Regions from separate parts of the Homo sapiens genome. Here regions 1, 2, 3, 4 and 6 are each linked to region 5. The links come from fine-mapping of genetic effects on gene expression. A gene starts in region 5. Each other region holds a variant in brackets. All regions are shown on one strand. Distances are from middle to middle.

Region 1 (4,086 bases), 92 kb after region 5:
TTGGTTTTGGGGCAAGTCCTTACAAAATTCTTGGTGCAAATTTTAGCTGGGGAGTAAAGGAGTGCATGGGGTTAGGACTTAAGTAGTTTTGCTATCAACAACATATGCCTCAGGTTTTGTTGTGATTGCTTCTGGAACTTTTGGTTTGTATAGCCACATTGAAATTTGGGAATATCAAATTGTAATTTCTCGAATTTCCTTCCCCAAATCATAAATAAAACAGAAATTTCACTTAAGTAGACCCATGTTTCTGGTGCTAAAATAACTATTTAGCTTATCTACAGGGAAATAACTGGAGTTTGCTTATTTGATGAAGAAATAACTATATTTGGCTTATCTCCTGGTTGTGTTTAAATGATTTGTTTTAGAGATGAGTATCTGCTGGAATATGTTTTATTATCTTAGTGAATGTTTAATGAACTTTTATTTCACAGTGGCACACGCCTGTAATCCCAGCACTTTGGGAGGCTGAGGCGGGTGGATCATTTGAGGTCAGGAGTTCGAGAGCAGCCTGGCCAACATGGTGAAACCCTGTCTCTGCTAAAAATACAAAAATTAGCCAGGCTTGGTGGCACATGGCTGTAATCCCAGCTACTCAGGAGGCTGAGGCAGGAGAATCACTTGGACCCGGGAGGCAGAGGTTGCAGTGAGCCGAGATCATGCCACTGTACTCCAGCCTGGGCGATAGAGTGAGACTCCATCTAAAAAAAAAAAAAAAAAAAGAAAGAAATTCAGGCTGGGCACAGTGGCTCATGCCTGTAATCCTAACACTTTCTGTAATCCCAGCACTTTGGGAGGCCGAGGCAGGTGGATCACCTGAGGTTAAGAGCACCCTGGCCAACATGGTGAAACTCCATCTGTACTAAAAATAGAAAAATTAGCCAGGCATAGTGGCGGGTGCCTGTAATCCCAGCTATTTGGGAAGCTGAGGCAGGGGAATTACTTGAATCTGGGAGGTGGAGGTGGCAGGGAGCCAAGATCGTGCCACTGCACTCCAGGCTGGATGAGAGAGAGAGACTCAGTCTCAAAAAAAAAAAAAAAAAAAAAAAAAGGAAATTCAGGCAAGAGACAGTAAATGAGAGCAGGTTATCTAAAATAAGTTTTCATTTTCATGTTTAGCTAATGTGAGTAAGCTAATGCATGTCAGGATGTTTTGAAAACTGTAAAGCATTTTACAAATTATATTAGTGGTTATTATTAGCAGAATAAAAGTTCTGGTTTAAAGGTAGTGATATACATTATCTAGGAACTATTTTTTTTTTTGAGATGGAGTTTCACTCTTGTTGCCTAAGCTGGAGTGCAGTGGTGCGATCTTGGCTCACTGCAACCTCTGCCTCCTGGGTTCTAGCAATTCTCCTGCCTCAGCCTCCTGAGTAGCTGGGATTACAGGCACGCACCACCATGCCCAGCTAATTTTTTGAATTTTTAGTAGAAATGAGGTTTCACCATGTTAGCCAGGCTGGTCTCGAACTCTTGACCTCAGGTGATCCACCTGCCTTGGCCTTCCAAAGTGCTGGGATTACAGGCATGAACCACCATGCCCGGCCCATCCAGGAACTATTACAGGTCAATTAGAAAAAAATAAGTCACTAGTAGTTACAGTACCAAGGACTAAGATGTTACCAAACAGAAATAGGGTGAATGATTTAGCAAGGAATATCTTTTTTGCTGTGGTTGAGGTCTTAAAATTGCATATGGCTTATTGATGGCATATCACTTTTCCTTTGCTAGCCTTAGAGAGACCATCTTGTCCCACCTCCTAC[C/T]CTATGCAGAAATCTCCCTATGGCATCCCTGACATCAGTTAATCTTGTTTCTGCTTGAAGACATCCAGAACAACAAGAGCAGAGTGTTTCATACCCCAACCCAATACATTTGTTAGCCAGCTCTGATTGTTAGAAAGCTTTTACTTGTATAGAACCAAAACCTGCCTTTCTGCAGGTGCTGCCCACTGGTTCTAGATCTGCCTTCCTGAGTAAACTTTCTCCCACAGAACAGTCCATCAGCTATTTGAAGATCATGGATTTTTCTTCCTCTTGTACAGGCTAACCACCTCCATTTACTTAAATGTCCCTCTGTGACATTTTCCCCAGTCTCTCATCAGCCTAGTCACCTTTGATTATATGAATTCCAGTTTTCCAAGGTCCTTTTTTTCTTCTTTTTTTGAGATGGAGTTTTGCTGTTGTTGCCCAGGCTGGAGTGCAGTGGCGTGATCCCGGCTCACTGCAACCTCCGCCTCCCAGGTTCAAGCGATTCTCCTGCCTCAGCCTCCCAAGTAGCTGGGATTACAGGCATGCGCTACCACACCCAGCTAATTTTGTATTTTTAGTAGAGACAGGGTTTCTCCATGTTGGTCAGGCTGATCTCGAACTCCTGACCTCAGGGGATATGCCTGCCTTGGCCTCCCAAAGTGCTGGGATTACAGGCATGAGCCACCGCGCCCGGCCCCAGAGTCCTTTTAAAATCTGCAGTTGAGCGCAGTCTCATAAGTGTGAGTCAACTAGCACTGAATACAGTATGGCTCTTATCTCTTAATCTGGACACTGTACTACAATTACTATATAGTCTACATTTTATCAGCAACATCTTACTGTTAGCTTATAGTTGGAAATTTCTAGAGTAGTGCTTCTTAACTGCGGGCAGCTTTGCCCTCAGGAGATGTTTGGCAATGTCTAGAAACATTTTGTATTGTCATACTGTGGAGGCGATACTGGAATCTAGTGGGTAGAGGTTAAAGACATTGTTAAATGTTTTACAGTGCACAGGACAGCCCCCTACAACAAAGAACTGGCCCAAAATAGTGATAGTGCTGGGATTGAGAAACCCTGCTCTAGATTATTCTCATGTATGCAGCTGTCAGATCTAACAAAAATGAAAATGGAGACCTGCATGTAAGCCTTATTAAGAATATCTCCCGGCTGGACATGGTGGCTCACGCCTGTAATCCCAACACTTTGGGAGGCCAAGGCTGGTGGATCACCTGAGGTCAGGAGTTCGAGACTAGCCTGGCCAACACAATGAAACCCTGTGTCTATTAAAAATACAAAAAATTAGCCGGGCGTGGTGGCAGACGCCTGTAATCCCAGCTACTCTGGAGACTGAGGCAGGGGAATTGCTTGAACCCGGGAGGTGGAGGTTGCAATGAGCCAAGATGGTGCCACTGCACTCCAGCCTGGGCAACAAGAGCAAAACTCCATCTCAAAAAATAAAAAATAAAAATATCTCCCTATGAAATTTTATCTTGTTGGTTTCAGTCCAATATTTGAGCTTGTAGGGGGGTTCATTTCAACTCAACAAACATTTATAAAGCAAAATGCTGTTATGCTCTGTGGATGTTGCAAATGATTGTGGTAGTCGATTTATAGCATAGAAGCAGAAATTGTTTACACCAATAATCATAGCAGCAAACACAGTGTGGTAAATGTGAAGGAGAGGTACAAATATTGCACTGTGAGCACAGGGAAGCTCACCCTTAATTCTGGGATCAGGGAAGTCTTTGTGAAAAAGGTGGCGTTTGAGCTGGTCTTAAAGAATACATACAATTTAGGAAAAAAGCAGGAGAAGGTTTTTCCAAGAGAGAGGAACAGCATGAAACAAGGAATGCAGGTGGGAAACAGGCCATTTTCAGGGAATAGCCAGTTGTCCTGTTACAACAGAGTCAGCACACTTTTTTCTGCTTAGGGCTAAATAGTAAATATTCTGGGCTTTGCAGGCTATAAGGTCTCTGTTGGAGCTACTCCATTCTTCCATTGTAGCACAAAAGCAGCCATAGACAATACATAAAGAATGAACATGGCCAAGTTCTGATAAGACTTTACAAAAACAGGCAGTGGGGTGGATTTGGTTCACTGGCTGTAGTGTGCTGACCCTTAGACTAGAACATAGTAGTAGAAGGAGATAAGGATGGAAAGATAGCAAAGATCCAAACATGGAAGGCAGTGGTAACCTTCTATGGGTTTTGAACTGTACTCTCCTAGAAATGGTGGGAAACCATTGGAGGTGTCTAAGCCAAGGCTAGAGTGGTTAGATAGAGAATGTGGTTAGAGTAGCATTTTAGAAGGATTGGTCTGGCAGCAGAGGTAGCTTGGA
Region 2 (4,086 bases), 150 kb after region 5:
CTCATTCAATATTTATTTATTTATTTTTGAGATGGAATCTCGCTCTGTCACCCAGGCTGGAGTGCAGCGGTGCAATCTCGGCTCACTGCAACCTCCGCCTCCCAGATTCAAGCGATTTTCCTGCCTCAGCCTCCTGAATAGCTGGGATTACAGGTGTGCGCCACCACGCCTGGCTAATTTTTTTATTTTTAGTAGAGACGGGGTTTCACCACGTTAGTCAGGCTGGTCTCGAACTCCTGACCTCAAGTGATCCGCCTGCCTCGACCTCCCAAAGTGCTGGGATTACACCATGCCTGGCCTTCATTCAATACTTTCTGAATGAATAAATGAGGTGCCTACATTGTAGAAGCTACTTTCACATATATTAATTCGTGTGATTCTCACAAGACTCAAAGGTTAAGAGGCTTGCCTCATCACAGATTAGAAGCCACAGGACAGGAATTGAAACCCAGGCTGCCTGACTTTAGGCCCAGTACTCTCTTACTATAAAACAGCTGCTGGGAAACACAGGCATTATGCCCTGTGTCTCTTGACCTGCCCCTCCAAACCTTCTATCCCTACCTCCATTTTGATCCCCACCAAAATCCCGGCCCCCAGAGCAGCCTTACGTGTCAATGATGTACTTGATGTTGTCATGTACAGTGATGTCATCCCGGCCCTTGTAGGGTTGGATGTGGAAGGCCACCTGCCACAAACAGAGGAGTAATGGTCAGGTGAGTGTCTATCTAGGGGCCACAACATATCAGGCTCAGGATCTAACCATGGCCTGGAGGAGAGGCTGAGTTCAGAAGAGGGCCTGGCAGTGGTGGGCACAGTAGAGATAAAGGCAGCTGCTGCCCTTGAAGGCCAAAACAGGGGTGAGCAGTTTGCCCATCTCCCGCAGCAGGGCATGTGGGAATCATTTTGGTGGGCTGTTACAGGGTGGCTAATAGGTTTCAACCTTGTGCCAGCTCCAAGTGGTTGGTGCTAGCTGCCTGAAACAGTGGAATAAGTATGCTGAAGCTGTGTCAGTGGAAAACTGCTGTGATCTGTTAGACATGTCAGTGGTGGAATTCTCTTCAGGAATAGGGGAGTGGGGCTTTTCTTCTTTCTCTATCATTTTTCTTCCTTCACCACAGAAGCAAGGGATGACTTACTTGATTGGCACATGTGGGGAAATGCTTCGTCCAGTCCGTCCTTCCTCTTGAAAGTGAGCCCACCTGCTGAGAACACCTGCCTACTCCTCGAGGTCCAGCACTGCCTCCCACTAGAGAGTTGAGTCTGCAGGTCCCTTTGGCTCTTGCCTACCCTTTTTCCACCAGGGTTTACAACCTAACCTCTATTATTATTTAACAAAAGTGATAATTATTTAGTCTTCTCTTGGTCCTATATTTAGTTTTCTCAGTTTTCTTAGAATTCAAAAAACTAAGAGCAACATAGGCACCATTTATCTGAACCCTCCCCCAAAACCACACTTGCCACATATTTGTTATCCCTTTGGGCTACTGCCAAGAACTTCTGTAGAGGCACTAACCCTGTGGGCGGAGGAGAGCAACTCTCCAGAATAGGGCAGAGAGCACGTGGCCTCTTCTTGGAGACTCACCTGGATGCTGTACTGATGGGCGGTGTCCAGAATGGCGGGCACCAGGTCATCTGAGGGCTCCCCGTTATCATCAGCCATGCCAGGTGGGTACCAGGACAGGACCAGGACGCCTGAGACGCAACACAGAGGCCACTTCAGAGACACACAGTACCCCCCTCAACAGAGATTTTTTTCCTCACAAACATCTCCAATTGCAAAAATGGTTCCTAAAAACCTGAAGCAAGCCTCCTGCCAGGTTCACTTCCTGCAGATGAGTCCCAGAGCCTCGCGCCCCGGAGCTGTCCACGCCCGCGGTGCTGAAGCGGAGCGCCTGCGGGAACCGTAGCGCGCCAGGCCGGAAGGGAGCCAGGCTTTAGACTGCCTCAGCAAGTAGTAGAACAAAGGGAATGGGAGGACAGTGCCACACCCACCTGGAAGCCACAGGCCTACCTCTGAAGAAGAGAAGCACCCCTAACCCTAACGTCCCGCATGGAGAAGAGCCCTGAGCAGAGGCCATCTGTAAAATCCAGCAAAATTCAGTGACGAAATCCGAAATAAGTGAGCCTCCCCTCCATAGCCTACGAAGGAGGCGCCCTGGGACCTTCCCTCCAGCTGGGTGCTTGATGAAAAGCCTCTAAACCCCCAACACTACCTCCAACTGCAAATAGAGCAGAGGCCTTCATGGAACACGGGCACACTTTCCTCTCTGCAGCCAGCAAAAGCAGGAACGGCTGCTGCTCTACCCTGTACCTGCCATGAAAGCAGAGGCCGCCCTAAGTTCCACTCCTCTGAACCCCAGAACCTGC[G/A]GGCCAGGACTCCAGGCCTCACTTCCCATCGCCCAACAAATTTGAAGACTCTGCCTCCCTCTCCTGGTGCAAACTCCTAGCAGTTCCGCCCTATGGGAAGGGCCCTGGATGTTAGGGATGGAAGGGCCCAGCTGGGGGGTCTGAATACTAGACGGAGGGGCGGTGTCGCATGGTGGGCCCAGGATGAGAGTGGGAGGGAACAGCTAAGAAGCCAGGCTGGCGGATAAGTGGGACCAAAGGGCCGGTGACAGGACCAGAGGGAGCTGGGGTGTGGGAAGGAGGAAGGGTGAGGCTGGGGGGCAGGGCCGCCCGGGGTGGGGGGCGCTCACCGATGGCGGCTTCCTTGAGCTGGGTCATATGCTCCCGCAGCACTTCGGGGTCCCGGGAGCTGTAGGGCCCCAGCTCCGGGTAGAAGCTGGAGCCCAAGTCGTCTGGGGGGCTGTGGCGGCCGCGGGGGTAGCTGGCCGAGATCTTGGGGTCCCAGTGCGGCACCATGACGTGGTCCCAGTGAATGTAGTGGCCCTCGCGCCGCGGGCTCCCGTACCACGAGTAGTAGAAGGCGTGCAGGTCCGAGTAGACGCGCAGGCTCTGCACGGGGGCGGGCTCGGCCTCCGCGGGTGCCGGCCCAGGGGAGCCGCCAGGGTCCGCGGTGCGGGGCGGCGGCGGCGGCGGGGGCGGCGCGGCAGGGGCTGCCGGGGCCCTGGCAGCGGGCGCGGGGGCCCCCTCTGGGCGTCGCTCAAAGGGCGCCAGCTCCAGGCCCGGGCCCAGCGCCGGGAGTCCGTCCGGAGCCTTGAGCGTGCGCAGACCCATGAGGGTGCCGAAGGCGAAGAGCAGCACCAGGAACAGAGCGATGCAGGCGCGGCGCCGCCGCCGGGCCATGGCCGACTGTGCGCTCCTGCAGCCGCCGCGCTACCTCCCAGCGTGCCGCGCCATGGCCGCCCGCCCGGCCGCGCGCTTCCCAGGCAGACTGTGCGCCCGGCAGAGCGCGGCGTGGGCGGCGCCCGGCCTGTCCCCGCAGTGCGGGCGGGCTCGGCACACAGGACGCAGGCGGCGCGGACCAAGTGGCCGCGAGCCGAGGGGGAACTGCACGCCGAGTGCAACGCAAGGCCCAGCGAACGGCGAGTTTCGGGGCCACAGGAGCAGGGGCCTGAGTCAGGCCGCGTGACCCGCGAAAGAAGAGTCGCCTGGCTGCCTGGGCGGCAGGTGGTGGCGCCTGGCTGGGGAGCGGGGACGCAGGCCTTCCGGAGCGCGGGAGAGAGGCGGCGCGGCGGGGGCGGGGGCGGAGGCGGGGCGGGGGGGGGAAAGAAGCGCGCGTCGGTGGTTCTCTCCCCAAGGATTTCCTTCTTCGTCGATCCACCTTTACTCACTTCACTGGCCCCCTCCCTACGGGTCTCAGTGCCACCCTTCTAGCCCCAGGTCCCCCATCCCTCGGCCCCCCTCCCCGGCACCCCAGGCAGCCCCTGAACCTCGGGGGAAGGGGCGTCGGGAAATCCCCAGGAATCGGACCCTGCAGACGCCGTCCGGGGCCTGGCGGGCGGAGGACGACCGTGACTCGCGCAAGGTCACACTGACCGGGCCTGGACCCCGGGTCAGGGCGCACTCTCCAGAGCTCGCTGCACTGCCCAGCCTGCCGGGTCGCAGTGTGGCTTAGTGAGTTCTCTGGTTGGAATCTCACGAAGCCAAAATTAAGGCGTTGGCAGGTTACACTCCTTTCTGGAG
Region 3 (4,086 bases), 23 kb after region 5:
GCAACATAGTGATATCTCTAAATTTAAATAGATAAATATATAAAATAAATTACGCTCTAACAGTTTTGTTATTGGTGATCCATACATGAACTGAAGCTAGCAAATATGAATGAGAAGAGACTTTCTTTCTTGGAATGCCAATGATGAGAATTTAAACAAAGTGGATGTCAAGAGGCCTGGACATTTTTCTTTTTCTTTTCTTCATGGTTCCTTGGTGCACTATTACTTTCTCTTTTTGTTTTTATTTATTTTTATTTTTATTTTATTTTATTTTTTTGAGACGGAGTCTCACTCTGTCACCCAGGCTGGAGTGCAGTGGTGTGATCTCTGCTCACTGCAGCCTCCACCTCCTGGGTTTAAGCAGTTCTCCTGCCTCAGCCTCCCAAGTAGCTGAGATTACAGGCATGTGCTAACATGTCTGGCTACTCTTTGTATTTTCAGTAAAGACGGGGTTTCAACATGTTGGCCAGGCTGATCTTGAACTCCTGATTTCAGGTGATCTGCCCACCTTGGCCTCCCAAAGTGCTGGGATTATAGGCGTGAGCCATCATGCCTGGACTAATTTTTATATTTTTAGTAGAGACAGGGTTTCACCATGTTGGCCAGGCTGGTCTTGAACTCCTGACCTCAAGTGATTCAGCCTGCCTTGGCCTCCCAAAGTGCTGGCATTACAGGTGTGAGCCACCATGCGCAGCCTCTTTTTGTTTTTAGAGACGAGATCTCCCTGTGTTGCCCAGGCCGGTCTCAAACTCCTGACCTCAAGTGATCTTCCCGCCTCTGCCTCCCAAAGTGCTGGGATTACAGGCATGAGCCACCGCGCTTGACCTCTTTGTACGATATTAAACGTGTGTCTCAACTTTCCTCTTATGTCTTTAAAATGGGAGTGAATGTTTGCCTCCTGGAAAGTCACACAGGACTTAAGCAATGCTAATTATTTAGACGTGCTTTCATTTGGGAAATACAATTAGAAATGGGAAATGCTGGCCAGCAGCGGTGGCTCATGCCTGTAATCCCAGCACTTTGGGAGGCTGAGGTGGGCGGGTCACTTGAGGCCAGGAGTTTGAGATCAGCCTGGTCAACATGGCGAAACCCTGTTTCTACTAAAAATACAAAAATTAGCCCGGCAGGGTGGCACATGCCTGTAGTCCCAGCTAGTCAAGAGGCTGAGGTACGAGAATCGCTTGAACCCCAGAGGTGGAGGTTGCAGTGAGCCGAGATCACGCCACTGCACTCCAGCCTGGGCAAGAGCGAGACTCTGTCTCAAAAAAAAAAAAGAAAAAGAAATGGTAAATGCTCACCTCTGAGAACTGAGAACCTGGCTGCTGTCTTCAGGGTCTATCCTAGGGGGATTTCTTCCTGATAAGAACTGCATTGGCTGGGCACAGTGGCTCAGGCCTGTAATCTCAGCACTTTGGGAGGCTGAGGCAGGTGGATCACCTGAGGTCAGGAGTTTGAGACCAGCCTGGCCAACATGGTGAAAACCTGTCTTTACTAAAAATACAAAAATTAGCCAGGTGTGGTGGCTTGCGTCTGTAATCTGCGTGCCACTTGGGAAGCTGAGACAGAAGAATCACTTGAACCCTGGAGGCAGAGGTTGCAGTGAGCAGAGATCACGCCACTGCACTCCAGCCTGGGCGACACAGCGAGACTCCATCTCAAAAAAAAAAAAGAACTGCACTTACTCCTTTCCTCCCTCCATTTTCATATTTCTGAATGCAGTCACTAACAACCTCAGGGTATCCTTGACTCTTCCCTCTGCTCTCATGTCTAATAAGCAAATTCTGTTCATTTTTTTTTTTCTGCAGTGCCTCTCCTATCTACCCACATTTCAAAATCCCCCTTATTCATGTTGGTATCCTCTTAGCTGAACTGTTGCAGTAGTCTTCTTGTAAGTCTTCCCAACCTCAAGTTTCCCTCTCCTTTAGGGATCTCCTTAGAACATAACTTTGATCGTATTCTACTATTTTGTATGTGAACTTCAATATTGTACCACTCCCTGTTGCCTATAGAATAAAGCTCAAATTCCTTAGTATAGTGGTCAAGTCCTGCACTGCCTGACCTCAGCCTGCTTCTCTGTCTGGTCTTATCTGCTACAACTTATCTTCATTTCCTTTTACTTCAAACTTGACTGCTTATTATTTCTGGATAAAGCCCTGTACTTTTTCACCTATTTGTTGACTTCTCATTCAGCTACATTTTTGTAAGCTTGAACTTGCTGCTTTTAGCATTTTGCATTCTCTCTCCTTCCCAAATGACAGCCGAATGCCTTGTACATCAGTAGGTGCTCAAAAAATGTCTGTCTCTGGTTGAATTGTAGAGACCCATACAATTTCTAGCCCAAGGTGCTTTGTGGCCTCAACAACTCCTGCCCCCTTCCTCTTTGAGCATGCTCTGCATCTCTGTGTTGCCCTCCC[C/T]GCTTCCTGGTTTGCTCTTGCCCACTTCTCTTTTAGCTTTATCACCAGACCACAGACAGTTCACAGAAGGCCCACTGAAGGGAAGCCTGAGAAGGAAAAATTCAAGTCATCTCTCCAGGGGCCTATCACCACTAACCAACCTGTTGCCGTAAAGTAATTGCACTGTAGTCTTCCTCCTTGAAAGCTAAACTGGTCATATTTAGTCCTTGCCAGCCTAAATTGGATTTGCACAGGGTGCAAATTGGATTTCCAGTCTAGAACTTACAGGTTTGCTTGGCATGAGATGTGTTTTTAGAGATGTCTGTGTTCATTTTATTTTATTTTATTTTATTTATTTTTTTGAGACGGAGTCTCGCTGTGTCACCCAGGCTGGACTGCAGTGGTGCGATCTTGGCTCACTGCAAGCTCCGCCTCCTGGGTTCATGCCATTCTTCTGCCTCAGCCTCCCAAGTAGCTGGGACTACAGGCGCCTGCCACCATGCCCGGCTAGTTTTTTGTATTTTTTAGTAGAGATGGGGTTTCACCGTGTTAGCCAGAATGGTCTCAATCTCCTGACCTCGGCCTCCCAAAGTGCTGGGATTACAGGTGTGAGCCACCGCGCCTGGCTTATTTCATTTTTTGAAACGGAGCCCAGCTTATTTCATTTTTTGAGACGGAGTTCACTCTGTCACCCAGGCTGGAGTGCAGTGACATGATCTCGACTCACCTTAACATCCACCTCCCAGGTTCAAGCAGTTCTCCTGTCTCAGCCTCCCAAGTAGCTGGGACTACAGACATGTGCCACCATGTCTGGCTAACTTTTATTTATTTTTATTATTTTTATTTTCATTTTTTTGAGACAGATTCTAGCTCTGTCACCTAGGCTAAAGTGCAGTGGCATGATCTCAACTCACTGCAACCTTCACCTCCCATGTTCAAGTGGTTCTCCTGCCTCAGCCTCCTACGTAGCCAGGACTACAGGTGTCTGCCACCACACCCAGCTCATTTTTATTTATTTTTAGTTTTTTGAGACAGTCTTGCTCTGTTGCCCAGGCTGGAGTGCAGTGGCATGATCTCGGCTCATTGCAGCTTCCACCTCCTGGGTTCAAGCAGTTCTCCTGCCTCAACCTCCTGAGTAGCTGGGATTACAGGCGCTCGCCAGCAAGCCCGTTACAGGTGCCCGCCACCACGCCTGGCTAAGTTTTGTATTAGTAGAGACGGAGTTTTGCTATGTTGGCCTGGCTAGTCTCGAACTCCTGACCTCAGGTGATCCACCTGCCTTGGCTTCCCAAAGTGCTAGGATTACAGGCGTGAGCCACCACGCCTGGTCTTTATTTTATTCATTATTATTTTTAAAAAATTTTTGTATTTTTAGTAGAGACAGGGTTTCACCACGTTGGCCAGACTGGTCTCGAACTCCTGACCTCAGGTGATCCTCCCACCTCAGCCTCCCAAAGTGTGGAGATAATAGGCGTGAGGCACTGCGCCTGGCCCTGTGTTCATTTTAAATGATAGAATCTATGGCACTTCTTTTTAAAGCTGTGAGATATTTGAGAAATGTAAAAGAAATGAAAAAAGAAAACTAAACATGGTTATTTAACTTTGAAGAAAGTAACAAAACAATTTGGGATGGTGGCAAAGCTGAACTGGAAAAAATGGATTTTTTCCATTCTTTTCAATGCCAGGTGCCCTG
Region 4 (4,086 bases), 31 kb before region 5:
ATTTTTCTGTCTTTAAAGACTGCTCTCCTGTCTTTAATACCATGGTTGTGTTGTGATAAGGCACTATTTCTTGAGATCAAGCATCTACAAAGAAAGTAGCAAGGCAAAAAGAAAAAAATTACTACTTGGGAAACTGAAATAATTATTCTAACTACATTAAGCCGTAGTAAAGTAAATGGAACACTATCAGTATGGTTAAGTCTGAAGATAACTATAGATTCAGTCCTCTGGAGAGTTTAGACTTACTGCTAGATTGGCTGTGAAATGTGTGGTCCTGCCACAGCCTCAGGAACACCCACCCTCTGGCCTGCATTTGGGGTTTCCCAAAAATCTGTTAATGTAATATTGTAATTTTTCTCTTCTTTGTATAGGAGTTGGCTTCTCTGGGTTTGGACAGATTGAAATCTGCTCTCTTAGCTTTAGGCTTGAAATGTGGCGGGTAAGGAATAGTTTTTCTATCAAAACTATCGATTTACTGTGTGTTTGCACAGTCTTCTAAGTAGCTCTGATTCCATTTTTTTTGTTGCTCCACACTGCAAAAATAAGCCAGCCTGTGTGGTAAAGTAACCCTAAAATCCTTTGCCGTCCTGTCTCCTTAGGACCCTAGAAGAGCGAGCCCAGAGACTATTCAGTACCAAAGGAAAGTCCCTGGAGTCACTTGATACCTCTTTGTTTGCCAAAAATCCCAAGTCAAAGGGCACCAAGCGGTGAGTGGCTGGGGTAGCACTGCTGCTTGTGGCTTTTAAATGTTATTCCCATGCAGAATTTTTAACCACAGTGGAGACTTTAAAGCCTGCTTTATCTCCGTTATTGGTTGACAGAGATCCAGTCTGCTCTTTATCTCTGCTAATAGCAGAGAGTACTATCACTGTTAATATAAACCAAGGACCGTCTGTATTCATCTGATTGAGAGCACATCAAGTTTCTAAATTTGAAACCATATTCATGGCACCTTTAATAGGTTATGGAGGCTAAAAGGCTAAATAGGTTCAAAACCTATTTTTCTAAGCTTATTTTTGGTAAAGTTGAATCTAATTCTTGAGCTACATACTTATACAAGGTATTTTCTTTTTTCTTTTTTTTTTTTTTTGAGACAGTCTCACTCTGTTGCCCAAGCTGGAGTGCAGTGGTGCAATCTCAGCTCACTGGAACGTCCACCTCCTGGGTTCAAAAGATTTTCCTGCCTCAGCCTCCTGAGTAGCTGGGACTACAGGCACGCACCACCACACATGGCTGATTTTTTGTATTTTTAGTAGAGATGGGGTTTCATCATGTTAGCCAGGCTGGTCTGCAACTCCTGAGCTTAAGTGATCCACCTGCCTTGGCCTCCCAAAGTGCTGCGATTATAGGCGCGAGCCACCGTGCCCGACCCAGGGTTGTTTTTTTTGTTTGTTTGTTTTTTTCTTTTTTGAGATGGAATCTCGCTCTGTTGCCCAGGCTGGAGTGCAGTGGCACAATCTCGGCTCACTGCAAACTCCGCCTTCTGGGTTCAAGTGATTCTGCTGCCTCAGCCTCCCGAGTAGCTGGGATTACAGATGTGCAACACCACATTGGCTAATTTTTGTGTGTTTTTTGTTTGTTTGTTTTTGAGACGGAGTCTTCCTCTGTCACCCAGGCTCAAGTGCAGTGGCGCAATCTCGGCTCGCTGCAACCTCCACCGCCCTGCTTGAAGCGATTTTCCTGCCTCACTCTCCCGAGTAGCTGAGATTACCAGAGTGCGCCACCATGCCTGGCTAGTTTTTGTATTTTTAGTAGAGACGGGGTTTCACCATGTTGGCCAGGCTGGTCATGAACTCCTGACCTCAGGTGATCCACCTGCCTCAGCCTCCCACAGTGGTGGGATTACAGGCATGTGAGCCACCGTGCCCAGCTAATTTTT[G/A]TATTTTTAGTAGAGAGAGGGTTTCACCATGTTGGCGAGGTTGGTCACAAACTCCCAACCTCAAGTGATCGCCAGCCTCAGCCTCCCAAAATGCTGGGATTACAGGCATGAGCCACCGAGCCTGGCCCAGTATTTTCTTAATGTACGTTTTTTTCTAATTCTCACAACAACCCAGAAAATTAGTTGTTATCCTGAGTTTTTGCAGATAAGGACTCAGAAAAGTTATGGAATGTGTCCACTCTCTCATAGTTCTAAGTAGCAGAGTCAGGATTTGGGCCTAGGTCTACCTGCTGCAGAGCTTGCTCTTATATACCACATTTCCTTTGTAGATTATAATGATGGAAATGTAAGCGGTCTTGATGTGTCCTTCATCTTCTAAGTGAGGTCATAGAGGAAGCCTCCATGCATTCTGAGAAATACCCTCAGTATTTGTCAGAGAGTCCTGAGATGAACAGAGCATTTGCTTTCATAGCATCGTATTTCTCATGTGCTTATAATTTTTAATGCAGTTGTGCAATAAATGTTCCCAGATATAGGGAACAAAACAATGGATGAGAGAATCCTTGAGTGAAACAGCTTGTTTCTTTTTCTCAGAGACACTGAAAGGAACAAAGACATTGCTTTTCTAGAAGCCCAGATCTATGAATATGTAGAGATTCTCGGGGTAAGTGACTGACTGCTGAAAGTGGAAAATGGTATAAAGCACAGGAGTTAAAGGGAGAGGAACTCACAGAAGATACTTTTTCATTAGGTTCAAAAGAGGAGTGGATAGCTGATAAACTAGTATGGCACAAAATAGAGGTCAGGGTACAAGGCTCTTCAGTAAGTTCCTATTCTGTTGTTAGATGATACTCCCAAAGTTGCCCAATTCCCATAAAGCCAGTCATGGAGAATAGAGTCCCCTCACAATATAATGTCCAGAATAGTGCAGATTCTGTGCCTGAGCTTTAGAAAATACTCAGGAGTAGCCCACAAAGCAGACACTCAAAGGGCAAGTAACAGAAAGGCTACTCAAAGTGGCCTTTCAGTTATGACTTATGAAAAGGCATTTTCATAAGTCATCTCATGTAAGTCAACTTACATGTTCATAAGATTATGAGAAACTTAGTAGGGCTAGAATATTATTAGTACAAAGCTGGCAGTGAATGTTCTTGAATATTTCAGGAGGAGCTGAAGTGTGGGTTGGGGTAGAGAAAGGCCTAGCCTGACCAGTATGCTTGTCTCAGAGAGAAAGCAGGGAGAGGAGTAGGAGGAAAAGAAATCTCTTTCCAGGAAGAAAAAGTGGAAGAAAGGGCAGCACTCATCCAGAAAAGATGATCAGTGTCTCTGGAGTCCTTCAGAAGACCAGCCTTTCTGATTGTGTCTGCTGTGTACAGTTTTTTTTTTTTTTTTGAGACAGAGTCTTGCTCTGTCACCCAGGCTGGAGTACAGTGGTGTAATCCGGGCTCACTGCAACCTCCACCTCCAGGGTTCAAGCAAGTCTCCTGCCTCAGCCTCCTGACTAGCTGGGACTACAGGCATGCGCCACCACGCCCGACTAGTTTTTTGTATTTTTAGTAGAGACAGGGTTTCACCATATTGGTCAGGCTGGTCTCGAAATCCTGACCTCGTGATCCGCTTGCCTCGGCCTCCCAAAGTGCTGGGATTACAGGCGTGAGCCACCGCGCCCAGCCCAATTTTTAACTCTCAGAGCCTTTCCCTTTACACATACTCGCATGGTCCGTTGAGTGGATGGCTCTGGATCAGATAGCTTGTTCACATATTTTTGTTAATTGCCGTGGACATTTTCATTCGGCCTTTGAGGACCATTCGTATAATAGCTGTAGAACTAGTCACCTGTGATTCTGTTATGACTGCTTTCAGTAAAAGGCTAGCTAGACATTGGACATTGGAGAGATATATTCTCCGCTGTGAACTTGGGCTGTGCTAGTGTGGACAGCAGGCTGAATTGCCAGTCTTGTGAGTGGCTGGGAGGCCACTCATGCCCTTGACATGAGATTTGTCCACCACTTTCTCCCTCTTTTTTTTTTTTGAAATAGTATCTCACTCTGTCACCCAGGCTGGAGTGCAGTGGCGGGATCTCAGCTCACTGCAACCTCCGCCTCCTGGGTTCAAGTGATTCCTGTGCCTCAGCCTCCCTGGTAGCTGGGACTACAGGTGTGTGCCACCACACCTGGCTAATTTTTGTATTTTTGGTAGAGACAGGG
Region 5 (4,086 bases):
TCCTCACTTCTCCCCTTCTAGGGCCTAGGCCTGACCATGGAACCCCCCAAGGGGGCAGGCCCTCAGCCCTAATCTCAGGGAGAGGATAGGGTTTGTCTGGAAAAACAGAAAACCTCCTGCCTGACCCCCACCCAGTGGGAGGACCCCCAAATCCTGCAGGGACAGTTTCTTCATCATAAAAAGCACACAGCCCCATCTACTTTGCCCAGACCCTCCTCGCCAGGCTTTGACACTAGAGCAGGGCTGGAATTGGGGTTCCTCTGCTTCCCTGCAGTGACCCCACCCCTTGATCCTAAGGGTCTGAGTCAATCCCCTTTCCCCTCATCGTCCACATGACTTAGACACTGAATTCAAATAAACTTGAGCTCCATTTGTGCTGTGGATGTTTCCAGGAAAAGAAATGGATTGAGAAGAAGGCAACGACTGTTTCTGGAAGGGGTTTACATATGCAAAGTTGAACTGGTCATTAGGATGGCCACTTCACTTGGGGAAAGAGGAAGGGAAACTGTTCACAAGTCACAACAGTCACCCCCTCCCCAGCACTGAAGGCCCATTCCTTCAGTTTGGGCCAAAGCTTGAGAGAAGGTGTATTTATTAAAATAGTTCAGAAAGTAATTCACTAACTCCATAGATAACTGTGTGCCAGAAACTGCTGGTATGTTGATGAAAAGGCATAGTCCTGTCCAACGGGAGCTTACAGCTTAATTAAACAGCCAATAGGCCAAGTGAGAATGATCCTAGCATTCCTTATCTGAGCTGGGTGAGCAATCACAGCTCACTGCAGCCTTGAACTCCTGGGCTCAAGCAATCCTCCCACCTCAGCCTCCCAAGTAGCTGGGACTACAGGCATGCACCACCATACCCGGCTAAATTTAAAAAAATTTTTTTTTAGAGATGGGGTCTCAAACTCCTGGCCTCAAGCGATCCTCCCTCCTTGGCCTTCCAAAGTGCCGGGATTACAGACATGAGCCACTGTGCCCAGTCCCTGTGCTGGCTCTTTTTGTCCATCTTGGGTAACCTCCTTATCTTAGATGGGGAAATTGAGTCCCAAGGGAAGAAAGGTCTTGGCCAAGGTCACAAAGCCAGGCGGATCAGGGGAAGGACGTTGCCGGACAGGAACAGTGTCATACCCTTTATAAAGTGCGTTCACACCCAGTAGCCTCAAACAGCCCTGTGTGGCAGGAGGGCTGGGTGGGGCTAAGGGAGGAAATAGGGCAGTGTGTAGCGGTATAAATGGCCCAGGAGTTGCAGTCAGACTTTCAGTGGAGTCCCAGTGTTGCCACCTGCTAGCTGCAGGACTTAATGTCAAACTGCTTAACCTATCCAAGGCTCAGTTTCTCCACCTGGAAAATGGACATAATGGTTCTTCATAGTCTGGTTCTCCCTCCATTAAACCAGGAGAAGGTAGTTATTTTAGGGGAAGAGTTTCAGTAGAGGTCCGGGTTGTCTACCCTGGAGTGAGAAGAGCTGAGGATGGAACTAAGGAGAAAATAAAAATGCATTATATTCTTCCCCTAAGATAAAATGTGACCATCTTCCTTCTGGGTGGGAAGCTCTGGCCCCATGACCTAGAGGGCTGGGGATGGGAGTGAGGGCAATCATTAGAAAACCTTTCTGGTATAGGAAGCCCAGTGTACCCCAGGGCCTAAGGGGTTAACACGGATGGAGAGACTCCCCACCCCACGATTGACTCGGGCATGCTGGGACTTGCAGGCTGACTGACCACCATGTGGCGCAGGGGCTGTTGGGAAATGTAGTCACTGTCCCGGAACCTGGGGCAGCGGAGTCCCGTGCGCCCTGTGGTGACAGCTCAGGAGGTAGGTGACAATGTCAGGGAGCTGTGGGTGGGAGCAGAGCAGGAAAGCCAGGGCAGGGCTGGGCAGGAGGGAGTGGGCAAGCTGAGGGCTGGGACACCCCCCAACCCCCGGCCTGCAGCTGATGCAATGGGCCTGCTGGGGCGGGGGTGAAGGGCAAGCAGCAATGGGACACTTCCTGTCTCCAAGGAAAGAGGAATGGGACCCTCCTGAATGACAGTAAGGGGATGTTCCCTGAACCCCACATGGACACACCACTGACACCTCCCAGAGAGGCGCTAGCAGAACAAAAACTGTCCCCAAAAGAGAGGAAGAGCCATGTCCTAGGAGCAAAGGGACTAGGTCCCCTTCTCCAATCCACGTACCCCACTTCCAACAAGGATAGACCACACTCAAGAGCAACTGGATGCCCTCCCAGACAAAGGCAGTATAGCAAACTGTAGATCCCAGCGGGGCAAAGGGACTGGACCCCTATCCCTAAAAACTGAAAGGCCTATTCTAGGGAGGACAAAGAGGAGGAGGAGGAGGATCAGGCCTCCCCGGTACCATCTCCCTCTGCAAAGGCCCCTCCCTCCTGCCCCCAACCCCTCTGAGGCAGCTCCACCACCCCATGCGTAACTTGTTGACCAAAGCGGGGCTCCTATCTCCCCTCCCACAGGGTGTGTGCGCTCAGCAGGGGCCAGCATGGACCAGTCTGTGGCAATCCAGGAGACGCTGGCTGAGGGGGAATACTGCGTCATCATATCCTTCCTGTGCTAACTGCGGCCCTGAGCCTGCCCTGGCCTTGGGAAGAGGAATGGAAGGTGTCGAGGTGTCTATCCCCTCTCCTGCCCCTCTGAACCATCAGGGGAGAAGGAAATCAGTATTTACTAAGTACTTACTGAGTCCTGGACTCTCAGCCAAATGCTTTAAATACGCAGTTATCCTCCTAACTCCCTATGAAGTTGGGGATTATTATCCTCATTTCATAGATAAGGAAGGCTTAGAGAGCCTGTTTGTCTGTTAGTTCAGCACATGGTTTGAGTGCTCACCCAAGGCCACACAGTGAATCTGGGGGGGCAGGGGAACAGAGGGAAGGTGGGACAGCCTGGGTGGGGAGAGGCCTCGCCTCTGGGTTGTCTTCCCTTGACTCTGAGCCGCAGGCGGTGCAAGGTGTGCTGTGTGAGGGGGACAGCCGGCAGAGCCGCCTCCTGGGACTCGTGCGCTACCGCCTGGAGCACGGCGGCCAGGAACACGCGTGAGTGAGGGGCTTGGTCCCCACCTGTCTGGGCCATGGGGTTGTTCATCACTGCACCCTCCAGCTGAACTTCAACTGTCCCTCCAGGGCAGGGTCTGAGTCTCCTAGAATAATTATCACAATGATAGTTAATATTTTTTGAACACTATATTTTAAACCCTGCACACGTACTAACTCATAATCCTCAAGATCTAAGGAGGAAGTTTCTTGAGAAGAGACAGTTTAACATACTAGTCCAGATCTTGAGCCTCGTGGTCCAAATGCCTGGGTTCAAACCCAGGCTTTGTTACTAACAAGCCACATGATCTATTGTTTGTTTGTTTTGAGAAGGAGTCTTGGTCTTTGCCCAGGCTGGAGTGCAGTGGGGTGATCTTGGCTCACTGCAACCTCTGCGTCCCAGGTCCAAGCAATTCTCGTGCTTCAGCCTCTTGAGGAGCTGGTATTACAGAGGTGCCCGCCACCATGCCTGGCTCATTTCTGTATTTTTAGTAAAGACAGGGTTTCACCACGTTGGCCAGGCTGGTCTTGAAGTCCTGACCTCAAGTTATCCACCTGCCTTGGCCTCCCAAAGTGCTAGGATTACAGGCATGAGCCAGCGTGCCCAGCCTCACATGATCTTTTTTTTAGAGACGGGGTCTCTTTCTGTCACCCAGGCTGGAGTGCAGTAGTGCACTCATAGCTGCATGCTGGAACTCCTGGCCTCAGGTCATTCTCCCACTTCAGCCTCCCAAAGTGTTGGAATTTTAGGCATGAGCCACCGCACCTGGTGGAACCACATGATCTTGAGCAAGTTGTTTTACTCCTCGATTTGTCCATATTAAAGAGTAAAGTGAGTTAGGCCAGGTGCAGTAGCTCATGCTTGTAATTCCAACACTTTGGGAGGCTGAGGCAGGAAGATTGCTTGAGCCTAGGAGTTCGAGACCAGCTTGGGCAACATAGCGAGACCGCCCCCCCTACCCCGCCCCACCTCCCGCTCCCCGGCTCCATCTCTACAAAAAATAAGAAAATTAGCTGGGTGTTGTGGTGCATGCCTGT
Region 6 (4,086 bases), 46 kb after region 5:
TCTTAGCCTTATTTTACCTAGCTCTTATTCAAGATGGAGTTGCTCTGGTTCAAATGCCTCTGATAAAATGATTTAAGTTATTGAGGGATTTTACCCACAGTAGTGACGTGTCCAGATTTGTGTTTTCTTTTCTTTTCTTTTTTTTTTTTGAGACAGGGTCTCACTGTAGTGCCCAGAGTGGAATGCAGTGATACAATCATGGCTCACTGCAGCCTCGAGCTCCCTGGCTCAAGCTGTCCTCCCCCTTCACCTCCTGAGTAGCTGGGACTACAGGTTTGCACTACCATGCCCAGTTAATTGAAAAAATATATTTTGGGAGGCTGAGGTGGGTCGATCGCCTGAGGTCGGGAGTTTGAGACCAGCCTGACCAACATGGAGAAATCCCATCTCTACTAAAAATACAAAAATTAGCTGGGTGTGGTGGCACATGCCTGTAATCCCAGATACTCAGGAGGCTGAGGCAGGAGAATAGTTTGAACCCGGGAGGTGGAGGTTGCAGTGAGCCGAGATTGTGCCATTGCACTCCAGCCTGGTTAACAAGAGCGAAACAACATCTCAAAAAAAATTTTTTTTTTGTAGAAATAGGGTTTTACCATGTTGTCTTGGATTCCTGGACTCAAGCAATCCTCCTGCCTCAGCTTCTCAAAGCCTTGGGATTACAGGCATGAGCCACTGTGCCCACCCAGATTTGTGTTTTCTTCTAGGTGTTGGCAGAATGGAATTGGAGGAGGTGAAAATGGAGGTAGGGAAATCATTAAGTGGGCTTTCCAGAAACATTAAGGGCCTAAACTAAGGCATGACAGTAGGGATAGAGAAGACAGTCAGATATAAAAATATTTAAGAGAGGCTGGGTGAGGTGGCTCACGCCTGTAATCCTAGCACTTTGGGAGGCCAAGGTGGGTGGATCACTTGTGGTCAGGAGTTTGAGAGCACCATGGCCAACATGGTGAAACCCCGTTTCTACTAAAAATACAAAAATTAGCTGGGCGTGGTGGTGCATGCCTGTGATCCCAGCTTTCTTGAGAGGCTGAGGCAGGAGAATCGCTTCAACTCAGGACACAGAGGAGCCGTGAGCTGAGATCACGCCACCACACTCCAACCTGGGCAACAGAGTAAGACTCTGCCTCAAAAAAAAAAAATTTAATAGAGGATTCATAAGACTTGGTGACCGAACATGGGGAAAAAAGGAAAAATATCTATTGTCACCTATTAGATTGGGTGACAAAAAGATTGGAGGTCTGAGGTTAAAAAAAGGGCAGAGTGGGAGTAGGGAAGCAGGAGAGGAGAAAAGACAGGAAGCTGTGGCCAGAGGGGGAACTATGGGGCTGTGTAATGGCAAATCTGGTCAAGAGCTGCTCTGACAGCCAGCTTCCGTGCCAGGTTCTAGAGAGGAGATTCCGAGAAGACCGCCCTGTGGCTGGAAATCCCCCACATCATGCCTTAAAGTTTCCATAGGTAGTGTAATGAGTGAAGATGTTCTGGTCCTTGCTGGACTGTCCTGAGAGACCCCCTGTGAGAAGACATCGACAAGATGCAGGGCCATTTTCCCATCAGTACGCTATGTACCCCTGGCCGTGAACTGAATCCACAAACTGTCAGCCCTTAGGAGATGACCTTTCAGTCTGCTAGGAAGTACCTAAAGAAACATCCTGAGAGAGTCATTAGAAACCACTGACATGCAGAAGCAGAGCACTTCCTCATAACTCCTTAGTTTGAAAAGTGCAGGTGCCTTTCCATATGGTAAAGGCCCCTGAAATTTTGATATTTAAAATCCCCACTTTATAGATGAAGAAACCGAGACCCAAAGAGCAGAAGTGACTTCTCATGTCACACAGGAAGATAGTAGTAGAGCTGGACGTCAGCTGACATTTCCTGATACTTTGCTGTACTTAATAC[A/G]TAGAGTGCCTGCTGTGCACTGGGCAAGGAAGCAGAAGAAAGAAGACCAAGTCCCTGCCTCGCAGAGCTCACGATTTAGTGGAAATGGCATCCAATAATAATGAATAAATATAAGATTTAATATCAGGTCGGGCGTGGTGGCTCATGCCTGTAATCCCGGCACTTTGAGAGGCCGAGGCAGGCGGATCACCAAGTCAGGAGTTCGAGACCAGCCTGACCAACATTGTGAAATCCCATCTCTACGAAAAATACAAAAATTAGCTGTGTGTGGTGGCGCATGCCTGTAATCCCAGCTACTCAGGAGGCTGAGGCAGGAGAATCGCTTGAACCTTGGAGGCAGAGGTTGCAATGAGTTGAGATCGTGCCATTGTACTTCATCCTGGGTGACAAGAGAGAGACTCTGTCTCAAAAAAAAAACAAACAAAAACCGAAAACAAAAATTAGCTGGGTGTGGTGGCATCTACCTGTAGTCCCAGCTACACGGGAGGCTGAGGTATGAGAATTGCTTGAACCCAGGTGGCAGAGGCTGCAGTGAGCTGAGATTACCCCACTGTACTCTGGCCTGGGTGACAGAGTGAGTGAGACTCTGTCTCAAAAAAAAAAAAGAAAAAAAAAAAGAAAAATTCAAAGTAAACATGGAGATCTGTGGGAACACCAGACAAACTTCCAGTTGAAAGTAGTTCAGCCGGGCGCAGTGGCTCACGCCTGTAATCCCGGCACTTTGAGAGGCTGAGGCGGGCGGATCATGAAGTCAGGAGTTCAAGACCAGCCTGACCAACATTGTGAAACCCCGTCTCTACTAAAAATACAAAAATTAGCTGTGTGTGGTGGCACGTGCCTGTAATCCCAGCTACTCAGGAGGCTGAGGCAGGAGAATCGCTTGAACCTTGGAGGCGGAGGTTGCAGTGAGTTGAGATCGCACCATTGCACTCCATCCTGGGTGACAAGAGAGACTCTGTCTCAAAAAAAAAAAACCGAAAACAAAAATTAGCTGGGTGTGGTGGCATCTGCCTGTAGTCCCAGCTACGCAGGAGGCTGAAGCACGAGAATTGCTTGAACCCAGGAGGCAGAGGCTGCAGTGAGCTGAGATTGCCCCACTGCACTCTAGCCTGGGTGACAGAGTGAGTGAGACGCTGTCTCAAAAAAAAAAAAAAAAAAAAAATTCAAGGTAAACATGGAGATCTGTGGGAACACCAGACAAACTTCCAGTGGAACGTAGTTCAGCCGGGCACAGTGGCTCACGCCTGTAATCCTAGCACTCTGGGAGGCCAAGGCGGGCGGATCATGAAGTCAGGAGACCGAGATCATCCCGGCTAACACGGTGAAACCCCGTCTCTACTAAAAATACAAAGAAATTAGCTGGGTGTGGTGGCGGACTCCTGTAGTCCCGGATACTCGGGAGGCTGAGGCAGGAGAATGGCGTGAACCCGGCAGGCGAAGCTTCAGTGAGCCGAGATCGTGCCGCTGCACTTCAGCCTGGGCGACAGAGCAAGACTCCATAAAAAAAAAAAAAAAAGATGAAATGGAAATCTTTTTATGTGTATTATTTTTTCAAATTGCTACTAAGTTGTTAGGACTTAAATACTTATTTGGCCCTAACTACTTAAGTAGAACTGTTAGGGATTCCTTTTGGCCTAGAGGTACCTTGAGAAAATTATTATTATTATTATTTTGAGGCAGAGTTTCGCTCTTGTTGCCCAGGCTGGAGAGCAATGGTGCGATCTCGGCTCACCGCAACCTCTGCCTCCCAGGTTCAAGCGATTTTCTTGCCTCACCTTCCTGAGTAGCTGGGATTACAGGCATGTGCTACCACGGCTGGCTATTTTGTATTTTAAGTAGAGACGGGGTTTCTCCATGTTGGTCAGGCTGGTCTCGAACTCCCAACCTCAGGTGATTTGCCCACCTCGGCCTCCCAAAGTGGTGTTGGGATTACAGGTGTGAGCCACTGCGTCTGGCCTCAGAATTGTTAATCAGGACCCCCATGGAACACCATTATCAACTAGAGTACAATGCTTCTGTACAGTTCCACTTGCCTTTAGTCTTTTTTTTTTTTTTTTTGACAGTTTCACTCTTGTTGCCCAGGCTGGAGTGCAATGGCGCGATCTCGGCTCACTGCAACCTCCGCCTCTCGGGTTCAAGCGATTCTCTTGCCTCAGCCTCCCAAGTAGCTGGGATTACAGGCATGCGCCA

Which allele goes with the higher level. Positions count from the first base shown, and alleles are read on the strand shown. Sizes are in standard deviations (SD) of each study's normalised expression. Not every link is listed here.
In carriers of allele A in region 6, the expression in lymphoblastoid cells of the gene that starts at base 1,754 in region 5 tends to be higher than with G alone (moderate effect, 0.63 SD a copy in GEUVADIS).

What was found. PIP is the estimated chance that this variant, and not a neighbour inherited with it, causes the effect. A credible set is the group of variants that fine-mapping cannot tell apart.
Region 1: its variant is the best candidate, but not a certain one, in a credible set for the expression of INPP5B in whole blood (TOPMed, PIP 0.77).
Region 2: its variant is the best candidate, but not a certain one, in a credible set for the expression of INPP5B in subcutaneous fat (GTEx, PIP 0.80).
Region 3: its variant is the best candidate, but not a certain one, in a credible set for the expression of INPP5B in blood mononuclear cells (TOPMed, PIP 0.51).
Region 4: its variant is the best candidate, but not a certain one, in a credible set for the expression of INPP5B in tibial artery (GTEx, PIP 0.52).
Region 6: its variant is the best candidate, but not a certain one, in a credible set for the expression of INPP5B in lymphoblastoid cells (GEUVADIS, PIP 0.89).

Annotation. Positions count from the first base shown.
Region 1 is chr1:37,853,136-37,857,221 of GRCh38, reverse strand. All of the region lies in intron 2 of MTF1 (metal regulatory transcription factor 1), which reads left to right. Among named protein-coding and RNA genes, the nearest start is that of MTF1, 4.4 kb to the left of the region's middle. The variant C/T (reference allele first, on the strand shown) is at 1,764.
Region 2 is chr1:37,793,343-37,797,428 of GRCh38, reverse strand. MANEAL (mannosidase endo-alpha like) reads right to left here and starts at 3,582. Exons shown (of 4, transcript NM_001113482.2): 1 at 2,697-3,582; 2 at 1,583-1,692; 3 at 609-685. The coding sequence starts at 3,246. RefSeq lists silencers at 3,246-3,365, 3,626-3,675. The variant G/A (reference allele first, on the strand shown) is at 2,368.
Region 3 is chr1:37,921,365-37,925,450 of GRCh38, reverse strand. The region is part of intron 7 of INPP5B (inositol polyphosphate-5-phosphatase B); the gene reads left to right. Among named protein-coding and RNA genes, the nearest start is that of INPP5B, 24 kb to the left of the region's middle. The variant C/T (reference allele first, on the strand shown) is at 2,415.
Region 4 is chr1:37,975,341-37,979,426 of GRCh38, reverse strand. SF3A3 (splicing factor 3a subunit 3) reads left to right here. Exons shown (of 17, transcript NM_006802.4): 10 at 372-439; 11 at 600-707; 12 at 2,474-2,543. Among named protein-coding and RNA genes, the nearest start is that of SF3A3, 13 kb to the left of the region's middle. The variant G/A (reference allele first, on the strand shown) is at 1,880.
Region 5 is chr1:37,944,721-37,948,806 of GRCh38, reverse strand. It overlaps INPP5B (inositol polyphosphate-5-phosphatase B), which reads left to right and starts at 1,754. Exons shown (of 24, transcript NM_005540.3): 1 at 1,754-1,817; 2 at 2,473-2,555; 3 at 2,957-3,051. The coding sequence starts at 2,499. LOC105378651 (a long non-coding RNA gene) reads right to left here. Exons shown (of 5, transcript XR_001737983.3): 5 at 3,180-3,528. RefSeq lists enhancers at 1-196, 1,586-1,825, 1,403-1,932.
Region 6 is chr1:37,899,046-37,903,131 of GRCh38, reverse strand. The region is part of intron 7 of INPP5B (inositol polyphosphate-5-phosphatase B); the gene reads left to right. Among named protein-coding and RNA genes, the nearest start is that of MTF1, 41 kb to the right of the region's middle. RefSeq lists an enhancer at 1,300-1,539. The variant A/G (reference allele first, on the strand shown) is at 1,897.